Regions from separate parts of the Homo sapiens genome. Here all the other regions are linked to region 3. The links come from fine-mapping of genetic effects on gene expression. A gene starts in region 3. Each other region holds a variant in brackets. All regions are shown on one strand. Distances are from middle to middle.

Region 1 (5,573 bases), 140 kb after region 3:
TAAATGAGTGTCCTCACTTGGTGTTGCCCGTGTATAACCAGTCTGCCCATGACGGGATGAAGCTGGACACTGGACAAACACTGCACACTTTGCCCTCCTTGCAGGCTTCCAGCACGGTTGCATCCCCCATGCACACCCACCCAGGGACAAGGAAAAGGCTGCCCCTGTGAGGAGGTGCTCCTCCCTCCCTCTCTCCCTTGCAATGTGCTCAGGGGCCTTTGACATTTAACTTCAGTGCAATTTGTTTGTTTTCACCCGAGTTGAAAATACCAACAAATGTCACCTGCCTTCACTCCTCTCTCCCAACATGTGACTCTGATGGGCCAGGAGCTGGCAATACTAATGAGAATCTTAAGTCTCCAAGAATTGGCAGGGAGATGCAGAGCTCTGGGTAGGTAAGATGTGGATATGCAGGTGGTTCTAGCATGAGAAAGGTGAGCTCCGAGGTAGGGAAGGTGAGGCAAGGATGCAAAGTCAGTGGTGGGGTAAGGAGGCCGGTGAGGACAGTTCTCTCAGCACCATCGAAAGGAAAGATGACTTCGTAGTCCTGTGTCTCTCTCTGTTTCAAAAGACTTTTCTACATTGTCCTGAAGTTTTTCTAGTTCCCTGCGTCTGTGTCAGCTCCTTCTGCCTACTGTATCCATTTCTCAGGGAGGGGGCTGGGATGCCACCTTATATTTTTTGGAAATTCATATCAGTTAGAAAAAGATTTCATTGTGAGTGATAAAAAATAAAACCAAAACAATGCAAAGTAGCCCAAATGAGATAGAATTTTTTTTTCTCTATCATGTAACAAATACAGAGATAAGGTCTATATTTGGGTGAACAGCATTGTACCAATGTCAATTGTGCTATGGCTAGGTAATATGTTACCAATGGGGAAAATGGGGTGAGGAGTATATAGAAACTCTTTATACTATTTTTTACAAGTTCGTATGAGTCTTAAACTATTTAAAACAGAAAGTTGTAATGAAAAAAGAGACAAACTGTGGGAAGTTCAGGGCTATATGGTGGTGCCATGATCACCAGATACCCAGGTTCCTTCCATCTTATTGTTTTGCATTCTCAAACCTGGCCACCACCTTATGGTCCAAGATGACTGCTCAAGCTCTACCCACCCCATCTACATTCCAATCAGTAGAAAGCAGGAAGGAGCAAAGACAGGCATGACCTTTCTCTAAGGATACTTGTGGGTCATCACATAGTAGACATTTACTCACAACCCTTTGGTTAGAACTAAGTCACATGGCTGCAACTGAGTACAAGGGAGGCTGGGAAATACAGTCTTTATTTGGGGGTGGCCTTTTGGCCAAATAACACTTGGGACTTCTTTTCTCTTTTTAAAATTTGTATATTTTGTTGTAAATTTACAATTTGTATATATTTATGGGGTACAAAGGAATGTTTTGATTTATAAACACATTGTGGAATAATTATGTCAAGTTAGTTAACATATCCATCACCTCAAATACTTAACACTTTTGTAGTGAGAACATTTGAAGTGCGCTCTCTTAGCAATTTTGAAATGTACAATACTCTATTATTAACTATATTCACCATGTGCAATTGGGGATTCTTACTAGGGAAGAACAGGAAAATGTGTATTAGGGAACAACCAAGAGGCTGTGATAGTCACCCCACAGAGGAAGAGCACAATGCTGCGTGTCAAGGAAGAGTTGGTTGCTTTGGTTATACTTCTGAGCCCCTAGCCTGACTTCCCTGTTACCCCTCCCAACTAAAGAAGGAAACTGTGCTTGCTTCCTTCCTTTGGCAAAACAGGACCAGGACCCCTTTCCCAGCCCACAGAGCCTCCAGCCAGCCTCCTCCATTCAATCTCCAGCTCTGCAAGGGAATTGAAGCCGGAAGTGTTCAGCTTCCTTGGTTCTGCCTTCTGCCAAAGGACAGGAAACATGTATATGGTGTGAATTAAGAGAAACGATTAGGATCTCCCAGCCTTGTAATCTCTCCAGACACCAACACCACAAGTCAGGAGATAGTGCCTAAAAATTCATTAGCGATTCGGTCCTTTGGTAAAGGCAGTGTAGAATTCTCATTTAAGATAATCAGCCATTAATATTTTAACCATCTATGTATTTGATCTTTTTGAGTATTGCAGCAAGATAAGAATCCAAAAGATTAGGGCTGACGGAGGATGCAAAGATTTCATTTTTTTCATTTTTATCTTTTATTGTAAATTTACAATTTGTATATATTCATGGGGTATCATTATTACTTTGGCAGAAGTGAGTCTCTTTTGGCCTCAGGCTCGCCCTGATCTCCTGATTCTCAAAATAATTATTTTTTCACCCTATCTGAGGCTGCCAGAGGTGGGGTCTGGAGGGGAGCACGTGCTTGATGGGTGCACCAAACCCAGGGGGTTGCAGGAGAAGCACAAAACTCACTACCTCAGCCAAGCACTTGGCTCTGCTTCTC[C/A]TCTTCATAGTGGGAAGGTATGAGCTGCTTCCCCAACTCAGCAAGCCCGCAAATCCCAAGGCCAAGTGATGGGTGTGAGTGGAGGAAGGATTCACGGGTGTGAAGGACACTGCTCAGGAGGACCCACGCTCCCGGTCTCTCACAGGCTATTGCCCTAACACTAGGAGCACTCGTGGCTTTTGACACCTAAAGGCTGGGCCTCCCTCCCTGAAACTCCAGGGCATGCTCCCCATTCTTTCTTGGTTAATTATCAGTTAATATCAGTGCTTGATTATAAAGTGATTACTGTTTGGATAGAGCCTTGTGTACATTTTGTTGGTTGATTCTAATGGAGGAGAACAGGGGTCAGTCCTAGGGTCCCTAGACTCTGGCAATATCTACAGAGCTCTTTGAGAGCCCAGATGGATGAGGGGCCACCTACTAGGTGGACCACCTACTAGGTAGGCCACCCAGAGTACATCATCTAAACACCTTGATGGGCCTCACCTTATCTGTAAATAGAAATAACTACCACACCCACTTCATAGGGTGGGTGGGAAGATGAAATGTGTTAAGGCAGAAAATGCTTACCATAGAATCAGCACTCAAGTGTTCACCATTTCATGATGATGATGATGATGATATCATCTACGTTTGAAGTAATGAAGAGTGAGAATTATTTGAGCAAAGTCAAGTCTTTCACCTTCTGAGAAGTTCACAGAAAAATAAAGGTTTGGGAACAAACTTGTTAAAGATTCTAAACTCAGGTCCCCATTTAGTTCAGGTGGAAGAAGACATCATGGGATGGTGACAGCTCTGCCTCTAGTGATGTTAAAGGTAGGCAAATTTGGGGAAAGAAGAGAGCCTGAGAGTGAGGCAGAATTCTGAGTTTGAGGTTAATGTCGTAACATTACCACAACTTTAAAGGTAATTAATGTCCTCATTTACACAAGAAAACTGAGGCATACGGTGGGGACATGCTTTGCTTGAGGTTAATGAGAAGGTTGGTAGGGTCTTTTGCTTTGATAGAAAAAGTAGAAATACTTTTCTTGGAAAACTAATAGGATAATGAGGGAATGTGTGGCCTTGTTATAAGGAAGCCCCAGTCTGAGCGGAGACACAGCCCTGACTCAGGGACCCCAGTCTGGGGGAGACACAGCCCTGACTCAGGGAGCCCAGTCTGAGGGAGGCACAGCCCCATCCTCAGGGAGCCCCAGTCTGAGGGGAGACGCAGCCCCAATCCCAGGGAGCTCCAGTCTGAGGGGAGATGCAGCCTCGTCCTCAGGGAACCCCAGTCTGAGGGAGACACAGCTCCATCCTCAGGAAGCCCCAGTCTGAGGGAGACACAGCTCCATCCTCAGGAAGCCCCAGTCTGAGGGAGACACAGCCCCATCATCAGGGAGCCCCAGTCTGAGGGGGGACACAGCTCCCACTTCTCTGGGAGGTCTAGTTTGAAGGAGAAACAAGGCAGATTTTGCTTTTATCATTTATTCCCTGCCTGCACCTCTCTGTCTCCTACTGGAAGAAGATAATTGTGTGTCTTCCTCTGTGCAGACTGTCTTGCCTTTAATAGATTGCAGCCTCCCAGAGGACAGAAAGAAAATTATTTACTCAGATTCTGTATGGAGCTCAGCACAGCAGGTGTTCAATGTATACATATCGCCGCTAATGATGTAGCACAATAAATACACTTAGCCCTAGTGACAGAAGCCTGATGAACACAGCACACAGCAGCTGTATCAGCAAGGCCATTGGCAGTGAGGAAGCTGCTGGGGAGAGAATTACTAAAAAGCCTGTAATGATCAGACACGAGGAATGTAGGGGCAGCAGGGAAGGGGGAGATCCTTTCTCCTCTGTAGCCCCCATAACAGGTGAGCAGGGCTGCATTATGGCCTTCGTGGGCCCTAGCCACTTTTGCCTTGGAATGCTTCTTCCTTCATTAAAATTAAAAATTAAAAAATCTCTCCACTGCTGGTTGCCTTTCTCCTGGGCAAGGAGGCCTCCTACACCCAGACTACACCCCAGCCTTGGATTCAGGAGTGGCCAGGCTGGAGGAAGATTTGATTATTGCTCCCTAGTCATGGCTCTATTCCTGCCCATCTAACCGACAACAGCAGAATTTCCTAAACTAATGGTGAGGTCCCCAGGAGGTGCTGAGTTCTATGAACATGTTTTACATTTCAGCTTTTTATTTTGGTGGCAATCTAAAATTCATTCTTTACCAAAGCTTCTCCTTGAGAACAGCCAGTCACAACTTAAAGAGAGTGCACTTAATAAGAACTGTAATGGGAAACACTGTTTTGAGATTTTATTTTGTGCCTGGCCCTGGTTAAGTGTTTTACAGGATTGACTCAATTAATCCTCACAACTTTATAAGATTATTCGATTTTACAGGTGAGGAAACTGAGGTATTGAGAGGTCAAGCAACTTGCCCAAGACCACAGGGCCAGAAAGAGGCAGGCCAGGATTGAAGCTGAGGGGATTCCTTAGTCCTACAAAGTGGCTGGACCCCAGAGGCCATGTGCCTACCACTAGCCACCTTGCCAGTAAGTCAATTTCTTAAGCCAGCACTTCTCAAGCCGGGGCCTCTTGAGGATGCTTCCTTTAAAAGGTTTCTGTAATTGTCCACCTTTGGTAGATCCACCTCTCTCCAATCACAATACCTTGAATCTTTGTTCTTCCTTCTAGAATGTCCTCATTAAGACAACTGGCCCAAGCTGCTGAAATCCTACCACCTATCATTCAAGGCCACAATCAGCACCACCTCCTCCAAGAAAAGTTCCCTTGCCCTAGTTGGTGGGGGAGTCTTCCATAGAATTCCCATAACTCTTTACCACTTCCTTTTCTCTCCGCCTTGAGAATGATGTCATCTGGGAGGGGGTAGGACATACCTGGACTGCGATTCCAACTCTGCCTTTTGTCATAAGTTATTGAACAAGGTGTGGAAGCTTCCTCGGCTTCAATTTCTCCACTTATAAAATCGGCAGATGGTACTGCATTATTGAATGGCTTAAATGAAATAACGTGTAAAACACCAGACACCCTGTAGATACTTCCCTCTTCCCTTGGATTGCACCTATCCAGGTATATGTTTGTAAGCTCCTCCTGAGAAGAGGGAAGATGTCCCATCCAGCTCTTTCACCACCCCATGTCTGCATGCC
Region 2 (5,573 bases), 250 kb after region 3:
CAAACATAGATTTATGGAATGTTGGCTCCTTGCCAGGATGCAGGCTGGATAGAGACCCTGCCCCTGACCCATTCCCTGGCTGGCAAGGGAAGCAAGACAAGCAAGCAGGAAACTTTCTGCCCAAAAAGGGGGATGCTGGAGTATCCGCCCCACCACCACCACCAGCACCAAAAACCACCACTACCATTTCCTGAGGGCTCGCCATGCACCAGGCTGTCAGGAGGCTTTGCAGGTATTAACCCTCTTGACAGCCCGACCAAGTAGGCACTGTCACAGTTCTGCATTGTAGACAGGCACTAAATGAGTCTCAGAGAGGTTAAATAATATGTCCAGTGCTAGACAGTTTCTACCTAATAGGGAGGAATGAAGTGCTACAGGAACATGAGAGACGGAGCGGCTGCCTAGGGAATCCCATTCACTGCTTACAGCAAGCCCACAGATGACAAGCATTACGTGGGACCAGGAGCAGGTAAGTGACTTGCCCAAGGCCCTTCAGCTAGTAGATAGTGGAGGTGGTTTCAACCCAGGTTCTCTATTTCTGAGACTTTGTTCATCCCTTTACCTGTGCTGCCCTGGAAAGACTCACCAGCTGTTGGAGAGCAGGTGAAGTGAAAGGCTTTAAAAAGGAGGCTCCTTAGAAATTCTCAGCTCTGCTCTCATAACTTGGTTTATGAAGCACTGGGCCTGCTGACTCCAGTGGGTTGAAGAGGGCTTTGCTGGCAGCCTCTGTCCCGGCTTGAGATGTGTGGCCCGTCTCTGACTGACACCGCCTAAGCCTCTCAATCTCTAAGAGTGATTCCATCTCATGGATGAGAGCCTCCGACATCTGTACCTGTCAGGCGACAAATCCAGACACACACTCCCTGTCTGGTTAGATATGCATCAGGCCCGATTAGGCCCGTGAACCTGCCTGCTGTGTGTGGATCCCTTTAGCCAAAAGCCACAAAGATAATTGAATTCGGGTGCAATTCTCACCAGGAGGTTGCCTGGGCATGTGTGGGGAAGGGTCTAGAGTAGGGGGCTGTGGGTGGTGGTGCGGGGGAGGTGGGCCCCACCTCTGTGATGCTGGGGTGGAACAAATGACTGACAGCCCAGCCCAGGACAAGGCAAGGGGGTCGCCTTACCCTCAAACCCCCATTCCCCAACAGGTGCTTGAAATTTCAGCACGAGTATTTTTCACTTCTAGGAAGTGTTTTTGTCTTTATGGCCTTGGCAGGATGGGAACACAGGCAGCGGGTGAACAGAAATACCCTCGGTGAGCAGGTGGGTCGGAACATCTGCACAGCCAGGCTGCCCTGCCTCACGCCTTCAGATCCAATTTCATTTCCTCACTTTGCATCCCTTTTTAATCAGCAGACACACCTGGAAAGGGCGTTCCTGCTGTCCCCCCAGCTCCGTTAGCCCTCCTCCAGCAGTTCTGCACAGTTCCCTGGCAAAAGGTGGGCTGAAGGTGGGAAAATGCCAAGGGTATATCTCACCTGCTTACCAACGGGGCTCTGCTGTGCCTGGATTCAGCCACCTCATCCTCAATGCCTGCCTTCACCCTGCCTGGATACAGAAGCCCCCAGCTCCCCACAAGGGAGACAACATGCCCTCCATGGCAGCTGCCAGTGATATAGACACCTCCACATCCACCACCATTAATGCAGTCCTACAGGCAGGTGCCCCTCACTGCCTAGAGAACACCAGCAAGCTTTCTGGCCACTCTGAGTCCTGCCTCTTGGAGTGAGAAACCAGAGACTCATCTTTCCCAGTGTCTCTTGTAGCTGTGACGAGGGCATGGACATGGAGTCTGCCAATGGGACCCACCAGTAGAGGCTTCAGCCTGAGACAGGCAAGCAGTGGCCAATGCCATGCAGTATCTATTTCCTGGTAAAGGCAGGGGCAGAGGCATCTGGCTTTGGAGGCAGCAGAGATGGAGGCACCAGGATCCAGGACCCTGTATCAGCAGTGAGAGCTCTGAGAATTGTGCCAGACCATGGCAGCCCTGAGGTCTGTAGGAGAAGAGGCTGGGGTTGGTTTGGGCGTTATTCCTGACTGGGCAGCTGCTCCCAAAGTCTGAGTCTGTCTCCCACAAAGATTTAATATCTTCATTTTCTGCTTAAGCTAGCCAGAGTAGATTTGCAAACACCCTGACTGGTATAGCACTCCCTGAAGTAAGCATGGGGTCTTTGTCAATAGCTAAGGGGTGTTTGTGAGTTAGTGTGGTTGTATATGTGTGCACACACAGAGGTAAATGAGAGAAGACTCCTGCCCTCAGGGAGCTTACAAGCTTCTAAAAGGTAACGGTAATAAAGATGATGAAAATAATAATAACAATAACAATCATGAAACTGTATCTCAATTAGAAGGAAGAGTGGGCAGAGCAGGAGGTGGTAGATGGACATGACTTATCATCAACAAGAAAGAACTCAGCAGAACCCTGCCCCAGGCCACCTGCAGGGTTCCAGTAGGGAAATGAAAAGGAGGAGAAGTGAGCATGGCAGAGATGCAGCCACGAGAGGGACAGAAGACAGTCAGGTCTGCCGCCTGCTCTTCCCGTCCTGAGTCAGGTCTGGACCCTGCAGTGGACACAGCCACTCCTGCTGCCTGCAGAGCAACCCTCCCAGGTTCTCCTGCACCTGGCCAGCCTCCTGAGCAGGGAACAGAGCAGATGGCCAGCAGACTGCC[C/T]CAACACAGGAATCTAGGACTCAGGGCCCAGGACACTCAGGAAACTCGGTTGCCATTCTCCGCGATGCTCAGACAGCCACTGTCAGTCAGTCTCCCCAAGGGCCTCCCACCTAAGCACCATGCCTGTCCTCATGTGCTCTGCCAGCTCTGAAACACTCTGCCTCTCTCTACCCTTGCCACCCCCACCTCCACCGTTCCCCTCTTCTGTCTCTCTCTTCCTTCACCTCCCTCTCTCCCACGTCCCCTGCATTTATCCCATGTCAGCATCCTGGACCCTTCTTCCCCTAGTTTCTTCCCTCTCTGCCGGTGTCTTTCCCCTTCTCAGCCACTTCTCTGCCACCTACTGTCCTCTCCATTTCCACACCAAAACCTCATCTCCAGCCCTCCCCAGCAATGCCTTTCCCAGAGCTCCTGCCTGGTCACACCTCTCGCCTCCCTCTCTTGTCCTCCAGCTCCATGGACTCTAGAACTGCCAGCAGCTTGTCTCTGGCACCCAGTTCCCCTTGCAGTCACCATCCACAGTCCTCTGAGGATATATCCAATCTCTTCCATGTCCTCAAGCACAGCACAGGATGGACACTAAGAGGGAAGGAAGAGATGGGGACAGTGGAGACTGGGATAATCAATTTCGGGCCTCCAAGAGCCAGAACACAGGGCTCTTCTCCTCTAAGACAGGGTGCAGGGGACTCCAGCAGAGCCAGGAGAGTGCTAAGATGGCCCATGGGAAAAGCCTCTGGCTTTGTGTGCAGGGGTTGTGGTGGGGGGATGGGGGTGTCTGCCTCTCTTTTCATTTCTCTGTTCTCTGCCTCCATCTCTGCGTTTCTCTAATTCCACTTCTTGGTCTCTTTGTGTCTCCAGCTCTGTGATGGTAAGGTGGGAGTTGGAATAACTTCTCAGCATTAACCATGGCTTCTGTGTGGGGGACGTTACCTTAATTGAGTCTCAGCTTGTTCACAGCCACTCGGCTGCCATAAATAATGGATGTCCAAATGGACTGTAAACTGGAAAGGCTGAGCCATGTCACACAATGCAATGGCCCCTGGCTTCAGCCTTCTGCAGGGCGCCTAGCCTCTCTCTTAATAATGCATGGTCCACACCCACCACAGCCAGACACCCAGCGATTCCCAATGAGAAGCTTGTTATGCTGTGCTGCAGGAAGGAATCAGGAACTTGCCCACTCTCTGATCCTCTCAGGGGAGGGCAGCAAGAGCCACACAGAGGTGTCAAGGCCTCAAGTCTTGTGAGAAAATGAACCTACCTACGATGTCACTGCACATGAAAATGACCTGCATCCTCCCTCCTGTGGGTACCGGCAGATGGTCTTTTGGTTTCTGGCTTTAATCCTGGGGTACAAATCCTGTAGCCGTCTGCTCACCAGATCCCTGAAGACTGCACCGTTCTCTGTGTATAGAGCAAGCTGCTGGTTAGAGGATCTGAAGCTACTTAATGCACTTGCGCTGTTTGCAGAACCTCCCTCTGTTTGTAGAGCCTGCCAATGCAGAAGGAGGGCTGTTGGCAGACTCTGAAGCTGTTGGCTACTTCTGCCCCCAAGACTGACTCACAGTCAATGCCCTTGCTCATACATGTAGGGCTTCCCTTGGTCCCATATCTTAGCTCCCACTTGGTGCCCCCATCCTTCTGGTTGCTCTGCCTGCCCCAGGGTCTTCAGCTCTGACTCACTGACCTCCCATGCCAGAGGTATTCCCCACCCACTATCCCCCAAGTCACATCTGTGTTCACAAATGCCTTCTCATCATGGATCCTGAAAATTAGCCTAGGACCTAGAGGTGTCTAGGGTGGGGGTGTAAGGATGCTCCTGGAAGGACCCCGTGCTGCTCAACAATGCCTACTGGTTGATGTCCTCAGTGCCAGGGGTTTGCTTTTAAAGCTCCAAACTCAAGACATTAATAAGATTCAGTGTCCATTTTATTCTAACACATTCTTGTTGGTTTTGTTCTGAATGCCTGTGGGGTGGATGATTGGAAGCAAGCTGTGGTTGTTTAGTGGTTTTTAACTTTAATAGCTTTGGTAATGTAGCTAAAGTCTGTTCAACTTCTGTTGCTACTGTTACCCAAATGCTTCAGGCAAATCATGACCAGGTCATCTGATTATTTCTCTAACAGGCCAGGCTTAAAGCTTGCAGATAGTTGGAATATTGTAGGGCCTTTGTTGTGGGGGGTGGGGGGTTGGCAGGGGATGGCCCCTCTGTGGCTAGGGCCAAGACTGATTACAAAGCTGTGCCTCCCCATAGGATGCCCTTCCTTAGTTTCTTTTTAGAAAACTCATTTTGTCATAGACAGGCTTGAAATGGCCAATGACGCTATTAATTACAACTGGCAGATAACAAGGCATTTTCACAAACATTGTATGGGATGTTTGTGAAACAGGCAAGAAAAAACAACTTCAGAAATGTTCAGTGACTTCTCCACAGGGAAGACTTCAAGTCTACTGACTCCAAATTCAATGTTCCCTGTGTAGTTCTATACTAGGAGTTCTTAACCAATCTTCTAAAGAAAACTTCAGCTTCTGCAGAAGTTTCTGTTAACTATTAGAATTTATTTGCAAAATACCGCATTGCAGATGTGTGTACACTTCCTCCCGGGGAGAGGGTCTACTGCTTTCCCAAGATGCTCAAAAGGGGCGCAGCGGAGTCAGAGACCACCGTGCACGTGCGGGGGAGTCAGAGACCACTGTGCACATGCAGAGGAGTCAGAGACCACCGTGAGCATGAGGGGAGTCAGAGACCACCGTGCGTGTGCAGGGGAGTCAGAGACCACTGCGCATGGTATGCCTTGTCCCCCACACCCAGATCCATGAAACCAGTGCCCTCTGATGCTCATTCACTTCATTCAACGAATGTCTATTGAGTGTCATGAAGTGCCAGGCACTGTCTCAGGCCCTGG
Region 3 (5,573 bases):
ACTTCAGGGAGTCTAGCTTAAGCACAAAAACAAGAATGTGGGGAAAGACTTAGGTACAAAGATGTTCATCACAGGGTTATTTAGCAGAATGAACACGAAGAAGAATCAAAATGCCCATTATTAAAATGGCTTTCACTCCCCAACCCCTTCTGGAATGATGGGATCACCTCTTTGGGAAGCCCTGGCTCAACTCTGAGGTAAGTAACCAGTACAGGAAGCCAGGTGCCACGTTAGTGACCCTAACTCAGTCCTTGTGGGCTTGTTCGAGGAGCCAAGAAATCCACCATCTTTCACCTTTTCATGATCCAAGTGTGGATTATCTTCTGGGGATTTTCATGGTAAACGGTGACTGTAGATTGGTGTTCTCTTGGCCTCTCAAGATGTATGTGGTCCCCATCCTGCTCCATCTGTCAAGGTTGCTTGGGGGTTCCCAGAGCTGGAAAGGCTCTTAGCAAATGCACAGTCCAAACCCTTTGAGGAAAAGGGACTTGTCACATTGCTTGTTAATACAAAGCCATGGTGAGCATCCAGGCCACCTGTGCCCCAGCACAGTACTCAGGTTATGTTGGGGCAAATGTAATTAGAAAAATAAACCAGTAATTCTCAGAATTACCAATGACCCAGGTCTTGGCTCTTCATGGAATATCCATGTTTCTGACTTGAGAAAACTTCTTGATGGAGTATTGGGTTCACTCTAGAGCAGAGATTGATCCATCCTTCCTATATCCCTCATTCACATCATTCTAATGCTTTTCTGGTTTCTAAAAGCAGCTCCATTTCTACTCTGGTGCCAGCTTGGTCCTATCCCTGCCACTCCGTTCTGGTTGTCTCATGGGTGACTGAGGGTTAGGGGAGATAACCTAGCCCACTGCCCCCAACCCTTGGGAGAATTCAAAGGCTTGAGCCCAGGCTGTGGTTCTTCCTAAGCCTTTCTTCCTGGGAGCTCCCGCCAATAGTAGGCAAGCCCTCAGGTAAGCAAAGAGTAAGGCAGTTTCCCTGCTGTTCTCCCCTCCTTCTTCCCTTCCCCTTCCTCTTCCCTACTTGCCCTCCCCAGTTTCTACTCCACACCTCCTTTTACTCACCTCTTCCTTCCTCATTACTTTCCTTCTCATGACTCTTCCCTACCTCTATCCCTCACTCCCTGCTCCTGAGTTAGATCCCTTCTCTCCAAGGCCCACCCCATATACCTTGAGTTTCATCTTGGCCATGCCCCTCCCCCACCAGGCTTTCCAGAATTCCTGCAGGGAGAGGCTTGTCTTCAAGGATATGCAGCATGCCAGTTTGGCAGTTTCCCGGGGTGCACATGTGGAGGGTGCACACATGAGGACCAGCTGCCTCGGCTTCTGCAGTTATGCATGTGTGTAGAGAGGACACAGGGTCGTATGTTACAGATGTATCCAGCCGAGCCAATCCTGGGCTGCAGAGACACATCCACATGCAACATGTGCCTCCCTGTGGGTAACCGGGACAGGTGCACGGGATGTGTTAGCCACCAGGAGAGAAGAGAAGGACTGCAACATTGACATTCTTCCTGCCCCTGGATTTACCAGCTGGAGTACCAACAGGAATCTCAAAATTTCATTTCCTTTAGAAGGAAGGAAATGCCTCTTGGGGAGTCCAGTAAGGCAGAGGACGGTCCTACCTTTCTGGTAACTAGTTGTTTATAGTGAACCGAGAGGATAACCAAAGACGAGACCTTGGCCAGACCTGGGTGTTCTGACTGTGAGCTCACAGTCTGCTTTGAGTAGGGTCTCCGCTACCTACCACATGCCTTGGACAAGTCACTTTACTCTTTTGGGCCTCAGTTTCCTTATACATCAAATGAGGGTTGCTGAGAAGATCAAACAAGTGAAGAGTTGTAAAGATGCTGTGCAAACACTTGGCGCCACTGCACCCTTCACTGATTCTTGTAATAATCATGAAAAGTCAAAGTGCGTGTGTGTGCGTGCACGGGGCGCTCGTTATTCATAGGTCCCTTACCAGGATTCGAGAATCTGAACTGGGCCCCAGGACTGGGTGGGCGCGATCGCCCCAGCCCCCACTCCCAGCCTAGGGCCGGCGCGGTCGGGTTTTCCTCCAGCAGGCGGCGGGCTGACGGCTGCAGGGCGCGCTAGGCACGTGAGGTGGCAGCGCCGTCGCCAGCTGCAGAGGTGCAGCCCTGGCCGCCCGGCTCGCCTTCCGCAGGGGCTGCCCGTGCCGCTGGACCGCGGAGACCGCCCTCCCGGTTCCGGGGCTCGCGGCCTGCCCACCTCCCTCCGCGACTGCGGCCCCAGCCCACTCCCGCCCCACCGTGCGTCCCCGCGCCACCCCTGCCAGGACCGTGAATCCCTCTGGTTTCCGCGGCGGTGTTGGTCGTCTCGGAAGCGGGTGCGCTCGGCAGCGGGCAGGGCAGCGGGCGCAGAGGCTGCCTTCGGCTCCTGCAGCTCCGCGGTTCGCCACTGGGGGCTGCCGCGCCGGAGAGCTCGGCGGGGACGGTGCGCACGGCCGCCGGGTTCCTGGGCGCCTCTGGCCGCTGGGTTTTCTCCACTGCTGGCCCTGCGCTGTCTCCGCAGCCCGCCCGACTCCCTCCCAGATTGGAGCGTGTGATCCGTGTGTGTGTGTGTGTGCGTGTGTGTGTGTGTGTGTGTGTGGAGCGGAGAGAGAAACCGGGTACGCGCGTATGCGCGCGCGCGTGGGGGGCAGTGTGCATGCGGGGAGTACGGGGGAGTGTGTTTGTGTGTGCGTGTGGGTGTGAGTGCCTGGCTCCCTCTCGCTGAGACACACATACACTCACACATACACAACCCGGCAGGCTCGTCTGAACTTGAAGACACCCCACATTCCAAGATGCCCGAGGTTCCTGGGAATGCCTGGGGTTCTTCGATCCGGAAAATCCTACCGGCATCCTCCTAGGGAGGGATTATTATTATTATTTTTCTTTAATCTGGAAGAGAAGAGAACAAGTTGTGCTTTTCCCCCCTTCTTCTTGCTAAATGCCATGGATATAACTGAATAAGCGGCTCAGGGCTTTCCCCGCGTGGACGTCCGAGGCCACCATCTGCCTGCATTCGCCGGAGCCGCCGGAGGGTTTAGCTCGAGTCTGTCTCGGGCGGGGAAGGATGCGTGGCCGAGCCGGGGAGCCCGGGCGCCCCGCGGAGCCGGCCTCGGTGCCACCCAGCCGGGGGTAGATGCTGCCTCGCCCAGGTGAGTGGTCGCCGGCGCTGCGTCTTTGCGATCCCGGGTGTCCGCGGGAGCTCGGCGCGGGGCTGAACGCACCCGAGGGAACCGGGAACTTTGCATCCCTTTCTTTTTCTCTTGAAGACTCCCCGCATCCTAGGTGCTCATGCGGACACCCCCTTCTCTTTTCGCCCATCCTTATCGCGAGAGATTTCCTTTCCTTTCTTTAGTCTTTATTTCCTACAGTGGGGGTGAAACTCTGGCGGGGAGCGGGGAGAGCCGGGTCCATGTGAGACTGGAGAGCCGGATGGAGAGACGGGGAGCCACGGGTGGATGGAACCGTTGAAAACAGCAGGAGAACTTTGCCGCCAGACCACTCTGTTGCATCTCCGCACATGCAAGGCCTGGCTAGAGCCATTGCTGGGGGCTAGGTGGGGGCGCCGGGGACTCCCTGAGCTCTGTGGACTGGGTGGGGTGGGGTAAAGCCAAGTGCGGAAGGGTTGATGCAGAGCGGATGGGAGGAAGGAAGGCATGGTTGCAGTTTGTGGGGGCAGGTAGGGCAGGTTCAGGGACCCTATGCTGGCCTCAGGCAGAAAGCAGATCAGGGGGATTGTGTGTGTGTGCAGCTTGGGGCATCAGAATGGCATGATGAAGCAATATGGAAAGTGGCATTAGCCATGCCTGGGTTCCTAGGTCTCTGTCTCCCACCCAGCCCTGCCCTGGTTCTAAGGTTGGCCTGGGCAGGGAGGAGGGAGAGCAGTAGACCGTTCCGAGGTGGACAGTGCCTTACTTTGCACAGACCTTCTGAGGGAGGTGTCCTACTCGTCTTCCCATCAGCCCGGTACAAAGGACAGAGACAGAGAGTTCTAGGGAGATAGAGCCTCTGAAAACCAGAGCAGGAGGGAGAAGAGAGCCTGAGTGGAGACCGCAGAGGGACTGAGCCAGACTGTTGCCAAATGCACCCGGCGACAGCAGACAGCTGCAGACGGACAGACACCTGCAGGGACAGGGAACATGTCAGAGCCTGCACTCTTGAGTTGGAGTTACAGGCATGGCTATAGATGATGACCCCCTCCCCTGGCCACAATGGAGTGTGTGTGTGTGTGTGTGTGTGTACGCGTGTGTGTGTGTACGCATGTGTATGTTTCAGGGAGGTGGCAGCTGTGGCCTCCATGGCCTGATTGGCCTTCTAGTACTGGGGGAGGGGGAAGCTTCAGGAATTTGACCCCCTGCTGCTGGGGAGGAGCAAAGCTAGGGAGGAAACTGCCATTCCCTGGGCTGTGAAGTTCCCAGGGGCCAGGGCTAGAGGTTCTATGTGGGCTGTTATTCTTGTGTGGGGGCCGATTTGGAACTCAAGGTGGGGAGCAAGGGAACTAGGTCTTGGGGTTGTGCCCTGGTCTGGTCGCTGCCCTCTGGCAGGAGCTTTATATAGCCACACACAGCAGAGCCCTGAGGGTAGTGTCATTTCCTTGTGGGGTACATCAGAGGCTGAAGGGGGTCAGAGTCCTGTAGGGAGGATTCAGAAGCTCCAAAAGGCCTGCACTTGGAGCCGTCATCCTCCGCCGACCATGCCAGCTGCCTGGGCCCTTCTGCTGATGCTGGAATGTCATCTTTCCCTTCTGACTCTGGCTGGGAGTGCAGAGTTGCATCTCCCTCTGGCCTCCTCACATGCTTCTGCTCAGGCCCCCTGCCCAGCCCTCAATTTAGAGTTTCTGGTCTAATTCCTGACCAGGAATGTAATTATTTATCTTCCTGCCCTCATCCTGGGGATGCAAACAGCAAACTTGGCATTTCTGTTTCAGCCTCTGGAAGGTTGGCTCCCAGTTCCATCTCCTGTCTAGAAGAACTGGGTGCCTGCCTGCTGTGGGCTGGAGGCTGGGGTTCAGGGCTCCTTCTTCTGTGAAGTGCCAGTTCTTTGCTCAGGCCCAGAAACGTGAGAAGCTGGGGAGTCTGGCCTGAGAGAGGGTGAGCTGGGAGCTTCCAGGAGGTGAGGCTGAGGAGGAGAAGCAAGATAGATGGGAAGAAAATGCAGTCAGAGTGGGTGGGGCCACCGGGGAAACCAGGCAGCCTTCTGGCCAACTGAGTCCTTCTTTGACTGAAGGAGGAATTGCTCTTCTTATCTTTGCTTCAGCTCCAAAGGAAAAAAAAAAAACAGGGATTCTGGCCTCCAAGTGCCAGTTTGCCAAGCCTCTTCAGCCTGTGGGGTTGAGCAGGTTCTGCTCTCCTTTTTTGCAGGGTGGATGTATAGAGGCTTATAAGCTCCTGGCGTGGGGTCTGTCTACCCAGGGACAGTGGAGAAGTGAAATTGGAATTAATTGTTTTCAGAAACTCCCCTTTCCTAAGGTAGATATTAGCATCTAGGGAGTTCACAGTCTGATGGGGGAGGCTGCTAGACTGGAAGCAGAGACATATAGCAA
Region 4 (5,573 bases), 200 kb after region 3:
AGATGGCTTTGAAGTGGCATTTTCTCTTGCACCTGTGTTTGTTACTGCCTGGTGGGAGCCTGCTTCTTGCCAAGTTCATGTATAAGGTGGGGGAATCTTCTGAAATAATAGAAAATGGGATCATCTTCCCAGAGTAAAGAAAGGTAGAGAAATCTGAAGAGAAGCTTCAGGCTAAGAAAAGAACAGTCCATCCCCAGCTGTCCTGACTGTCCTACCTGACATCTCCATTCTCTGATATACCAGCCCTACCTACTTTTTCCTGGACTGTGGTCACCACAACACCTGACTACTAGGGGCATGTAGGTATCTTCTACCCGTTTTGGTTGAGCCCTGGATGGTATTTTTTTCAAAAGGGTCTTTTACTGGGAAACCATGGGAGAACAAACCAAAACCCAAACTCAAGGTATAGAAACAAACATGCTTCTGGAACACAGCTTCCCAACCTTGTCTTTTCTAGTATCTAGATCAGCACTGTCCAATAGAATAAAATGTAAGCCGCATTGTAATTTTAAATTTTCCAGTAGCCATGTTGAATCAAATATAAAGAAACAGGTGGAATTAATTTTAATCTTATATTTTAACTCAATATATCCAAAATATTATTGTAACATGTAATCACTCAAATTATTAGTAAGTTATTTTATGGTATTTTTTGGTACAAAGTTTTAGAAATCTGATTTGTATTTTACATGTATGGCATATATCAATTCAGATGAGCCCTCTTTAAAGTATTTTACATGTATGACACATATCAATTCAGACTAGCCCTCTTTAAAGTACTTGAGAGCCATATGTGGCTAGTACTGGCCACTGTACCAGACAGTGCGACTCTAGACATACAATTGACTTGAAAGCACAGCTTTTAGAAGAGGAAGGAAACTGACAATTATTGAGTACCTACAGCTTCCAGTTACTGTGCTTGTTGCTTCAAATATGTTTCTCACTGAATCATCACTAAAACCTTTTTAGGTAGATAGTATTATGCCCATATTATAAATGAAGGGACTGAAGCTCAGAGGGGTTAAGTAACTTGCCCAAGGTCACACAGTTAAGTCTGGCTGCAAAGCCTTAGTTCTTCCCATGACATCACACTGCCTTCCCATCCTTTCTTCTTCCCGTCAACCTGTTATAGATTGTATTTTATACTGACTGAATGATTCACATTTGTAGCCTAATCAGGAAACCCTTGACTAGCCTAAGATCTGCGAGAAACCTCAGAGTGTTAATTCCAGGCAAGAGCACCTTGGTGAAGCAGTTCCTTCTGACCGTACACCGGCCTTTCTGGCCCTCCTTGCCTTGAAACACGTTCCCTCCCCTGGCCAGGAAAATTCCTCAGGATTCAGACTGCACTGCCCAGCCCACCCTGTGGTCACCCCTTCTTCCCTCTTGGTGACCTCTAGGAGGTTGCTTGTTGAATGAGCCTTCCATCTCCAGTCTTGTCTGGGCTGCTCTGCCCCAGGAGCCTATAACTTCTTCCCCCTAAGATAAAAAGCCTGACAACAGCTTGCTTCAGAGACAAAACCCATCTTCTCGCCTCTTTCTATTTTAATACCCCTGTCCCTATCAGGTAAGATACCTACCCAGATCCTCTTTCCTGATATACAGAAGCCTCCAGCTCTTCAATCTTTTGCAGAGGTGAGATAGCTGATACAATATTTGCCTAGTTGATTATTAAGCTTTCTGGAAAAACAGTTTGACCCCTTTCCCCACATTCTCGATAATGACATATCCCTCAGGTTTCCCTCAAGAGAATTTTCTATTTTTTCACCATTACAGTGTTGAAATTCGAAAAGACCTCAGGAACACTTTTTTGTTAAGGGATATAATTGTCAGCCAGGCTAGGCAACAGTCACTGTCTCAGGATTCCCCCTTCCCAAATGCAAAGTAACTTTTCTTTAAAAGTCTGTGAGTATTGATTTTTCATAAGTACAGCCTGAGTACTTCTGTATCTTCTGTTCTCAGTGTGCCTGCAGTGAAGGTCTCAGGGCTTCAGCAAGCTGGGTGGGGCTTTCTCTGTTCTTACAACCAGTGGGATTTCTGCAAACTGCTGCCAGAAAAATAGACACA[C/T]TTATTCAAAAGAAGAGACTATTGGCAGGCAGCACTCAAAACCTGCATACACCGTTTTAAAGATCCCACCTAGATTATCAAACCTAGCCTTTCCATGTGATGCAGTTGGCAGCAAGAAGAATTTGTTGTGACAAGGAGGCTTCTCACAGGTAAATACCTGAGGTTTCTACCTTTGCATAATAGAATCAGGCCCATCCAGGTTACTGCCCCAATATCTAAAAGGAACCCTGTCACTTTCACAGTTTAAAAATATCTATTTGTGCTTTCAGCCCTTAAACCAAAGGTTGTAGCTTCCATCATCTCAATTAAGGTTCTGTACCTCACAGTCAGTCAATGTTTACAAGGCTCGTGGTTTCCCTTCCCTGAAGCTTCTATCAGAGAGAAATTGGCATGTTTTCCCCAGACCAAAGAGAGAAGCTAGCTTTTACCTCTAAGGCTATCCTGTGACCCCTATCATAGCTATTTAGGAACTTCTGACAGGTTCAGTGATCTTTCTCCATGTTCTCATTTTGTATAATGTGTGACATCTTTCTTTTGCTCACCTATTCTGAGGAAGTAGGCCCAGATTACAGGCTCTTCCCTGGTTATTTTCCTATTATTGTTGGGATAATTGATCTTCTGGTCCCTTTAGCCATCAGCTGAATATGCTCCTGGAGCCAGAATTCTCCTCCACTATCTCATGCCGGAGTCTGTCTGGGATTGGAGCAAGGAAGATCTCATGGTCTAGTCCTTTCCAAGATGTCAACAGTCACATGCTCGGTTTCCTACTGATGAGAGAATGGAGCTGGAATTTCACCCATCTCCATGGGATCCCCAAACCCATCTGGTCCACAGCCAGTCAGCCCACTGACCAACCTCCCACAGCCCCAGCCCATCCGTCCAGGCTGTCCATCTGGTTAGTTGGTGATGAGCACACCCCCTCTTCTCCTGCACCTCCTCTGTAACATGTGTTCAGTGGTGCTCCCTGGCATACCCCACAGCAGCACTAACATTTATATACTTTGCAAGGATGAGTTTTCTTTCCCTTGAATCTCCTAGGCTACATCCAAGATATCCCATTTTCCAAACCATGGAGACCTGTGTTAGCTGACCTATCTGACATTGTTTCCACTTTGTTGTGAAGTAAAAACCTCAGTGCACTACACCTGTCCCCTCTGTCATGGACTTGGCATGTCCTGGCAACTAGCAGGTAACTTGCTCACCATTTGAGGAGTACTGCTGCCAAGAAGAAGGGATTTAAGCCCTCAGTTGCAGCTATTAATCCTGAAGGCTTTCATCTTGGGTTTCCTGTTATGCTCTTCCCACCCATTCCTGTGGGGATCTCTTGGAAGACATGGTCCTTCCTGTCTACCAAAGATGGGGTGATTGCCTTACCTACCCAGACTAATTATGGAAAAGTTCTTATACTTTCATTAGGAGAACATTAGGTTGGCATTTTTCAGGTGAATATTGAACTGCAAAAGTAAGTTGATAATCATACCTGACATTTATTGAGAGTTTCCTATGTGCCGTGTACTGGTCTAAGAGCTATATATAGATTATCTCAATTTATCATCAAAACAACACAATGAAATAAGTATTATTATTAATATCTCTATTGGGGAAGCTCAGGTAGAGAAGAGTTAAATAACTTGCCCAAGGTCACACAGCTATTGAGGCACAAAGTTGGGTAAACACTCAAGAGATGGATTTGCTCTGAAGTTTCTTACAGAGCTGCAGAGGATGTAAAAATGCAGAGCTGTCTGGGTTTCATGTCGAAGGCCTGAATCCTGGCATATGTGCCTTGACTTTCAGAAGACTGAGTCCAGCAGAAAAAGTGGGAGAGATGGTGAAATCTGTTTGTGCTCATTCAGCATGCTCTTGCTGACCTGCTGTGTGCCTAGCACTGTGCATGGTATTGAGAGAGATAAAAGTCAAAGTGAAAGACACTGTGCATGGCTTTGAGGGCCTTACACATTACCCTGAAGGACAGGGCCATAAGCTGATGCTTTAGATCTCTGGTTATCAAAGATTGGTCTGTTTTCACTAATTTCAAGATAACTTATAGATCTGGCAAAACTACTATCCAAGAAAAGATGGACAGATGGATTGGCCAAAGGCCATACAACATAAGATGGCACCTGTGCTTGGAAGAATTCACCAGATTTTAAGTTTCAAAATCTTGAGTCACTTTACAGAAGAGGAAATTAAGACCTGGTATGGAAAAGTGACTGGCTTTGGGTCTAACAGGGGCACATTAAGGACTGGGATCCTGTGCCTGGACAAGCAGGGGTTGAGGGAGGCATCTCTAGCTGTCCCAGGAGCTTGAGAGGAGGTGTGGTGGAGGGAACAAAGCAGGTCTGGAAGAAGGGTAGTTGCAGAGAACTGAGTAAACCAAGGCAGGTTCAGTTCCTCCTGAGAGAAAGAGGCTGTTTAGTTTGGGGGTTCTGGGTTGAGAGGCTGTTTCTTGGCCACAGTTTCTTTTTTGGTAAGATATCAATGGTAAGTATCGACTTCAGTAAGTATGCTTCTGTAGTACTATGTAGTTACACAGATCACATATTGGATCGGAAAAGGCAGCGTAATAACAGTCATTATTATTAATGATATGCATCATTTAAAGTAACATAAATTATAGCATATTAATGATAATATTACATATGTTAAGTTCATAGACTCTCAAAGCTGGCAAAAGCTATCAGAGGTCATCTACTCCAGCCTCCCTCAATGGCTATCAGGATCCCCTGTTCAATATCTATACAAGCTCTCCTTAATCTTATTAAAAGGAAAATCATGCATGATGAATTTCAGGATTTACCCAAGGCAGGAAGTAGCTCTCTGTGCTCTAATCAGACCATGGCTCCATATTCCCGGTGGGCCCTTGTGAATCCATCATTCTTGACTTCATGGGAAATCCAGAGCCCAGACATCAAGCAGCTCCCAAAGACTGCTATGGTCAAAATAGTGTTAAAAAACTAGGTACAGAGCCAGGGTTCCAGCTGGAAAAATCTCAAGAGGTTCGATATTCCCTGCCAAATCAGCACTGGTCTCTATGATTTTGAGAGAAGAAAGGAGGCAGGGAAGTGGCAGAGAGCACATGGTAACCTCTGTACTCCCTGATGCCCTGAATGTTCTGACATACACAACAGCCCCAATAGTAGATGGAAGCACCTGGAAAACTGTAGACTTCACTGCTGGGCTGAGGATGGCCATCCTGCCCCTCACTCATTGGTTCCCTAATCCTTCTCACCTTTCATCTTTGTTCCAGGATTTTCCCAACAGCCAAAATCTAACATCCAGTATTCTGGAATGACACAAATGCTGCCACCAAAAACCTCCCACTGTTCCCCTTCTAGGATGGGAAGACTGCCAGGTGCCAGAAAAATCACTCAGTGAGAGCCTGGCTCTGATCAGAGGGCTGAGAGTGGGCCAGAGGCTCTCCACTTGAGAAGGGAGGTGAGCTCTTCCCAAGGGGTGGTGGGATGGTAGCCCATTGACCAGCCCTCTCTGACACCCTTTAATACCTG

What was found. PIP is the estimated chance that this variant, and not a neighbour inherited with it, causes the effect. A credible set is the group of variants that fine-mapping cannot tell apart.
Region 1: its variant is the best candidate, but not a certain one, in a credible set for the expression of LRFN2 in whole blood (INTERVAL, PIP 0.52).
Region 2: its variant is the best candidate, but not a certain one, in a credible set for the expression of LRFN2 in cerebellar hemisphere (GTEx, PIP 0.86).
Region 4: its variant is the best candidate, but not a certain one, in a credible set for the expression of LRFN2 in T cells (TOPMed, PIP 0.81).

What each region holds. Positions count from the first base shown.
Region 1 is chr6:40,445,089-40,450,661 of GRCh38, reverse strand. All of the region lies in intron 1 of LRFN2 (leucine rich repeat and fibronectin type III domain containing 2), which reads left to right. Among named protein-coding and RNA genes, the nearest start is that of TDRG1, 70 kb to the right of the region's middle. The variant C/A (reference allele first, on the strand shown) is at 2,434.
Region 2 is chr6:40,335,615-40,341,187 of GRCh38, reverse strand. No RefSeq gene overlaps it. Among named protein-coding and RNA genes, the nearest start is that of LINC00951, 18 kb to the left of the region's middle. The variant C/T (reference allele first, on the strand shown) is at 2,671.
Region 3 is chr6:40,584,551-40,590,123 of GRCh38, reverse strand. It overlaps LRFN2 (leucine rich repeat and fibronectin type III domain containing 2), which reads left to right and starts at 2,760. Exons shown (of 3, transcript NM_020737.3): 1 at 2,760-3,183. RefSeq lists silencers at 2,328-2,397, 2,488-2,587.
Region 4 is chr6:40,383,755-40,389,327 of GRCh38, reverse strand. No RefSeq gene overlaps it. Among named protein-coding and RNA genes, the nearest start is that of TDRG1, 8.2 kb to the right of the region's middle. The variant C/T (reference allele first, on the strand shown) is at 2,068.